Homo sapiens: one gene and its partner. The protein of the gene in region 2 purifies or fractionates together with the protein of the main gene of each other region. This does not show direct contact. Each region holds a gene or a part of one and is shown on either strand. Other genes may lie near its edges.

The links.
Region 1: the proteins of ERO1A (region 2) and NUP50 fractionate together in Homo sapiens (co-fractionation; one large-scale study listed by BioGRID). This does not show direct contact.

The regions. Positions count from the first base shown.
Region 1 is NC_000022.11:45,173,792-45,177,444, forward strand, and holds part of NUP50 (nuclear pore complex protein Nup50), read left to right. Parts: intron 1-2,102; coding exon 2,103-2,289; intron 2,290-2,450; exon of another isoform or gene 2,451-2,591; intron 2,592-3,653. UniProt on the Homo sapiens protein: Component of the nuclear pore complex that has a direct role in nuclear protein import. Actively displaces NLSs from importin-alpha, and facilitates disassembly of the importin-alpha:beta-cargo complex and importin recycling.
Region 2 is NC_000014.9:52,653,956-52,657,608, reverse strand, and holds part of ERO1A (ERO1-like protein alpha isoform 2 precursor), read left to right. Parts: intron 1-3,653. UniProt on the Homo sapiens protein: Oxidoreductase involved in disulfide bond formation in the endoplasmic reticulum. Efficiently reoxidizes P4HB/PDI, the enzyme catalyzing protein disulfide formation, in order to allow P4HB to sustain additional rounds of disulfide formation.

The DNA of each region.
Region 1 (3,653 bases), on a different chromosome or scaffold from region 2:
TTAAGCTGAAGGGATGAGGGAAGGAGAGGGCAGGAGCCCTTGGGCAACTAAGGGAAATTAAGTGTAGGTGGATAATAGAAATCCACAGATAATTTTAGCTGTAACTCTTAGCCTGAAGTTTTCATATATTAGGACAATTAAATGTCATGTCACCCACCAGAATGCTGAAATGCGGCTTTTCCTAAATAGTGGATTCAGTAGATCTGCTAAGCACTGGAGATGTATTGGTGAGTAAAAAAGACCAAAATCATCTTGCCCTATGGAAGAGAACAAATACATAGTATTAATTTTTCCTCTGTAAGTGCCATGGGGAACAGTAAAACCAATGAGGGAAATTGAGGGATGTGGGGCTGTGTCAGTGCCCATGGAGGAGCCCACATGGGTATTTTCCCTTTTTTTTTTTTTTTTGAGACAGGGTCTTTGTCGCCCAGGGTGGAGTGCGGTGGCACAATCTTGACTCTCTGCAACCGCCGCCTCCTGAGCTGAAGCAATCCTCCTGCCTCAGCCTCCTGAGTAGCTGGGACTACAGGCATGCGCCACCACACCCAGCTAATTTTTGCATTTTTGTAGACAGGGGGTCTCACTCTGTTGCCCAGGGTGGTTTCAAACTCCTGGGCTCAAGTGACCTGAATGTCTCGGCCTCCCAAAGTACTGGTATTATAGGCATGAGCCACCACACCTGGCCCCTTGATGAATATCTTAATCAACTTTTACTCTCATTTTTCTGAATATCTTTTTTTTGTTTAACTTGTGGTTCTTGAATTTTTGTTGTGATTCTAGAGCCAATTTACTATCAGCAATTTCTAAAATCCCTACAAGTGACTTTTAACTTTGTGCAAAATCGGAGGCTCTGAAAAGCCACTTAATGGCTTTATAGTTTGTCCATGAATCATTGTTTTAAAATGACAGCTATCAGTGTGGCGGGTTTGGAATTTTAAATGATGAAAAATCAAATGTAGAGCAACAGAATCTAAGCTCTGTTTATTATGTGCATTAAAACTCATACAAGTTACAATTTTCCATTCTTTGCCTCATTTTATTGCCTTAAATATATCAGTGGTCAGTAAACATCTGAAATTCTGTAGATGAGATTGAAACTTTGGTTTTGGAAAAACATGCAGTAATATTTAGGCTGACTGGCCCATTTAGTAAATGAAGGGGTTCCAGTTTAATTTTTTTTTTTTTCTGGTGAAATCATGGTTATAATTCACTCATGTGGAAACTTAAGATTTGTGAACTGTCTCTTAGATGTTCGGTCTAAGAAGCAGATCACTTCCTATAATGTAATCACTTCTTCGAACAACAACAAAAAAGGGCTTCTAAAAATTGTGGTGAGTTTATTTAGCAAAGCACTATAAACCGAGGAACCTTTCTCCAAAAGTTCCAGGGGCAGAGAGGAGCTTTAGAATTCATACGGAATGCCACACATTTCCAGAGCATCTTAGGTTAGAGATGTGAGCAGGCTAGCACAAAGGGAAAAGGCCTACTAGAAAAACCTTGTTAAAACAATCGAGTTTAAGGAAGCAGTGAGGAAAAGGAGAGTAAGAAGTTGTCCCGGGTTGTTCAGCTAACAGGAACATGTAGATTTGAGACTCGATCATCTAAGTTTTTGTAGGCTGAAAGCAGTTGCAAGCCACAGATGTTAAGAAATTAGGCAAATGGATATTTTTAGTTAACCTACCTTGATGTTTTTATCATTTCTTTAGGCAGTAAATGGTCTTTGACTGAGTAGTACATGAAGTATCTTTCATTTGGGATTTAGTTTTATTGAGCCGCTTCAGTAATTCTGAGGCTGGGTGGTGGGTACATAGGTTTATTGCATTAGTCTTTCTTACCTTTTATGTCCTAAAAATACACATAATATATTTTTTAAATGTCCTTCCTGCCTGTTTCAGGAAAGCAGCTTTGGGTTGCAAAGCTGTTCTTATGAATACAATCTTCCCATCTCATTTCTTATTTCTGCTTGTGCCAGCAGTTTGCCTTATAACGCTGACTGCATGTGGAGTCTAGGTGCTGTTTAGCCAAGATGCTGTTGTCACTCACTTGCTTTTTGGTAATAGAAAGTACACTTACCTAATGTGTGCTCCTCCTTCATACTTCAGTCTGACACTGGAGGAGCCTTTAAAGGTTTTAAAGGTTTGGTGGTACCTTCTGGAGGAGGACGCTTTTCTGGATTTGGTAGTGGCGCTGGAGGGAAGCCTTTGGAAGGACTGTCGAATGGAAACAACATAACCAGTGCCCCTCCCTTCGCCAGTGCAAAGGCAGCGGCAGATCCCAAGGTAGCCTTTGGTAAGTAGCTCCCATCCCCCAGCCGCCTGTGTAAGTATCATCTATGGAAAATAGCTTTACAAAGATGTTTTTCTTATAGCTACCCTGTGTCTTGGAACTGTGTGAGCAAAACCAGGGTGATAATGAAAGAGATGGAACTTAGGGAGGTGTCGGTTACTTACAGAGTAAGTGGGTAGAGCACAGGCTTTTGATCCAAAACATCTCAGCTTTGTTCTCAGCTCTGCTGGCTACCAGTTGTGTGACCCTGGCCTCTAGGCCTCAGAATGTTCAATTTTGAAAGGAGAGTGGCCCTCAGAATTGACCTAGAGTCGAGAGAGAAAAGAAAATGCTATGTAGACCCTTTGTGTGCCAAGGGCTTTCTGTGTGCCTCGCACCAAACTGGCTACTGGGAACTCAGATGCGGTTCTCCGTGGCCAGGGTGCCTCCCACGCTAGGTTTGTTTGGGTATGGGATGTGTTGATTGCCTGATCCTGTTTTGAGGGAGTCAGTCAAAAACTCTTGGAATTAGCAACAGAGAATAGGATCACGGGTTAAAAGCTTGGAAATGATCCTGACTGGTTGGGTTGTATTTAGCTGATTATTCTGAGAGTATATACTGTTTGATTTTAATTTGGCAGAATGTTTAGTGTGATGTAAAATAAGTGTTCTCTGTTAAGTTTTGTTGTTGTTGTTGTTTTTTCTAAGTTGGAGTCTTGCTCTGTCACCAGGATGGAATGCAGTGGCGCGACCTCTGCTCACTGCAGCCTCCGCCTCTGGGTTTAAGCGATTCTCCTGCCTCAGCCTCCCGAGTAGCTGGGACTACAGGCATGCACCACCATGCCCAGCTAATTTTTGTAATTTTAGTAGAGACGGGGTTTCACCATGTTGGCCAGGATGGTCTTGATCTCTTGACCTTGTGATCCACCTGCCTTGGCCTCCCAAAGTGCTGGGATTACATCCGCGAGCCACTGTGCCCGGCCTCTGTTAAGATTTTTAACTACAGCCATCCCCTAGTATCCTGGGGATTGGTTTCAGCACCCCCTTGGATGTTCAAGTCCCATAGTCAGACCAGCATAACTCTTAGATAGGAAAAGTGAGTGTTCGTATCCACTGGTTTCTCATCCCCAGAGTACTGCATTGAGACAGGGTCTCGCTCTGTCACCTAGGCTGGAGTGTATTGGTGTGGTCTTGGCTCACTGCAGCCACAACCTCCCGAGCTCAAGTGATCCTCCCCCATCAGCCTCCCCAGTAGCTGGGATTATAGGTACACACCACCACACTCAGCTAATTTTTACATTTTTTGTAGAGATGGGGTTTTGCCATGTTGCCCAGGCTGGTCTCAAACTCCTGAGCTCAAGCGATTTGCCCACCTCAGCCTCCCAAAG
Region 2 (3,653 bases):
ATTGTTGTATCAGAACCTTTTTATTTGTGTGCTCGTATCAGGCCTGGAGTTTAAATGGGTAAAAGCCTTTCCTGCTGCTGTTGATGCCTTAATACTGTTGAAAATGAGACTGTGGTTGATTTTCATCAGTACCATATTTCTTCTGGAATTAAAGTATCACACTCTGAGAAACAAAATATAGAAACTTCCATTTTATTCATTGATTGATTGCTTGATTGATTGAGACAGGGTCTCACTCTATTGCCCACTCTAGTGTGCGATGGCCAAAACTGGGGCTTAGCCTGGGAGGGCACTTGGCTTTGCCCAGGAAAAAGTTTGAACCTCTCCTCATGAAGGAGAGCTGTCCCATAGGCAGTGTGCCCAGAGTAGCAGCTTGGAGGCAGTTCTGCAGCCATATTTATAGTCCACTTTTTATTATATGCAAATTATGAGGCAGATTATGCAGAAATTTCTAGGAAAAGGGTAGTAACTTCTGGGTCATTGCTATGGAAAGGGGTGGTAACTTCTGCATGTTGCCATGGGAATGAGAAACTGACATGGCACCCTGGTGGGTGTGCCTCATGGAAAGCTGCTTCAGCCCCCTCCCTGTTTTAGCTAGTTTTCAATTTGGTCCAGTGTCCTGAGTCCCACCTCCTGAGCCAAGTCCTACCTTCTACCTCATGACTACAGGAGCATGCCACCATGTCCAGCTAATTTTTCACAATATTTTTTGTAGAGACAAGATTTGGCCATGTTGCCCAGGCTGGTCTTGAACTCCTGAGCTCAAGTGATTTGCCCATCTTGGCCTCCCAGAGTACTGGGATTATAGCCGTGAGCTACTGTGCCTAGCCGTAACTTTGATTTTAAATGGCGGTTTAAACTCATTAGTAATTTTACTGTTTTTTTTTTTTTTTTTTTGAGACAGAGTCTTGTTCTGTCACCCAGGCTGGAGTGCAGTGGTGTGATCTTGGCTCACTGTGACCTCTGCCTCCTGGGTTCAAGTGATTCTCCTGCCTCAGCCTCCTGAGTAGCTGGGACCACAGGTGCATGCCACCACACCCAGCTAATTTTTTGTATTTTTAGTAGAGACGGGGTTTCACCATGTTGGCCAGGCTGGTCTCGAATTCCTGACCTCAGGTGATCCACCCGCCTTGGCCTCCCAAAGTGCTGGGATTACAGGCTTCAGCCACTGCACCTGGCCTAAACTCATTAGTAATTTTAGATCATCATTTTCAAATTGTGTGTTTAGGTTTTATGAATATGTTTATATTCAGAAGTTTGACTATTATTTTTTTTCATCTTTAAAAAAGGAAATTTTATTATTTTCCATCACATGAATGAACTTGGAGGACATTATATTTGTCAAAATGAGCCAGACACAAAGATTATTATTTCATGATTTCACTTACAAAGGGATTCTAAAAAACTTAATCTTATTGAAGTAGAGAGTAAAGTGGTGGCCACCAGACACCAAGGTATTTAGGAGACAGGAGGGTTTGAAAAGATGTTGATCAAAAAATACATAATTATAGTTAATAGAAGTTCAAGAGATATTTTTGTACAGCGTAGTGACTATAGATCAAAATAATGTATTTGTAGTTTTGAAAAATGCTGACAATGTCACTTGCTCTTGCCACAGAAATGTTAACTATGTGGCGTAATTACCTAGAATTAAGCATTTAACAATGTATATATACTTCCAAACATTATGTTTTACAAAATAAATATACATTTATTGATTACAGATGGTAATGGTATGAAAGCCACTGAAAGGGCAGGCGTTGCTTATGGTCTTATGACTGGCCACTTTGTGAACACAATAAACAAGTTTGCATTAAAAAAACCCAGAAAATGGTTTAATCTAAAAGTTGCCATGATCTTCAGAATTTTTCCAGAGAAAATGACCAAGAAGTTGACTACAGTTAGGTGACTAAGAATATAAGCTGTAGACACCTTCACCCACTAAAAAAAAAAATCACATAAAATAAGAGTGAGAAATTCCTCTGAGTTGTAATATCAATATGGAAAAGAAATATTATTCCAGATTTCAAATCCACAGAGATCATTTTATTATTTTGCAGCCTTTAACATTCACACTTAAAAATAAAAGATTCTACATGGAAACATGTGCTGTAAGTGTATCATAGAACATTAAATTTAAAATTATTCACTTACCATTAACTCTCCTAATACTTTAATTTCTATGATATATTTTCTAGCAAATTAGATAGATGTCACACTTTGTGTAAGAATTTTTTTTTTTTTGAGACAGAGTCTTGCTCTGTCGCCCAGGCTGGAGTGCAGTGGTGCAATCTTGGCTCACTACAACATCTGCCTCCAGGATTCAAGCAATTCTCCTGCCTCAGCCTCCTGAGTAACTGGGATTACAGGCATGTGCCACCACGCCCGGCTGATTTTTGTATTTTTAGTAGAGGTGGGGTTTCACCATGTTGGTAAGGCTGGTCTCAAACTCCTGACCTCGTGATCCACCTGCCTCGGCCTCCCAAAGTGCTGGGATTACAGTTGTGAGCCACCACGCCTGGCCTGTGTAAGAATTTAATAAGATTTTCCTTTTACAAACAGAGAAAAACAATGCTAAGTTACTTAATCCTCTCACCTGTGGACAGGTTTGCCTTTTATCTTAACTGATTTGAAAGTTATATTGATAAGCAAACTCTCTAGTTAAAACCAATTTTTGAATGCATTAAATAAATACCAACTTTCTCATCAAAACCTACAAAGTACCATGTAAAATGACATGGCATGAAGACAACAGTGAGAAAACTGTAGCCATCACATAGAAAAAGAAGGAGAAGGGCTGTGATGAATACACAGTTAGAAGACACATAATAGGACAAACAAAACTAAAGATAACTAGGAAATAAACAGAATTTCTCTTAAAATTCAGCAAGATTTAGCTTTGCAGCATGGAAAAATGTTATCTCCACATGAAGAATCAATCTTATTTCTTCACTATTGATATTTTCCTTCTCTGACTTGAACTTACAAACTAACTGTAGCAGGAATATTTATGGCTTATCATGGAGCATCCGTTACACAGCAAGTACTGTGTGTTTGTTTGCTACATTTATATATAAAAAACATCCTCATGACTTCTGAAGCATCCCTAGTTCTTACCTGAACAAATTGGCTCAATAAACATATAAATTTACTTATGTCAATTATAATGAGAATAAAATAAGTAAAAAAAAATACAGGCTTATGTAGAATTCTTTAATTAAAAGAACAAATGGAATGTCCTAATTAAATGAAATGTAATACACAATTTTGGAAATACATCTAAAAATTGTTTTGTGTGCACTACTATATTTTATAAAAATCATTCTTATTAGTCATGACCAGCTCACATAATACCTCATAAACTATAAAAGAAAAAAATTATAAGAGACAAGAAAATTATAAGTCTAGCATGAGAACCAGGCAAAGAAAAACAGAAAATGTTCATGGGGAGATTCTGAATCATAAGTCAGAAGATTTTACAGTAATGAATTTAATAAAAAGCAGAGTATAGATTTGCTTTCAGCATTTTTGAGGTTTTCAGTTTTCTAGTAAATTTGTCACCTTATTAAGATATTTGTTTTGTTCCAATATTGCTCTATTCTTCTGAAAACAGGTATAAACTCATACTCACCCAAACACACTTACTCTATAAT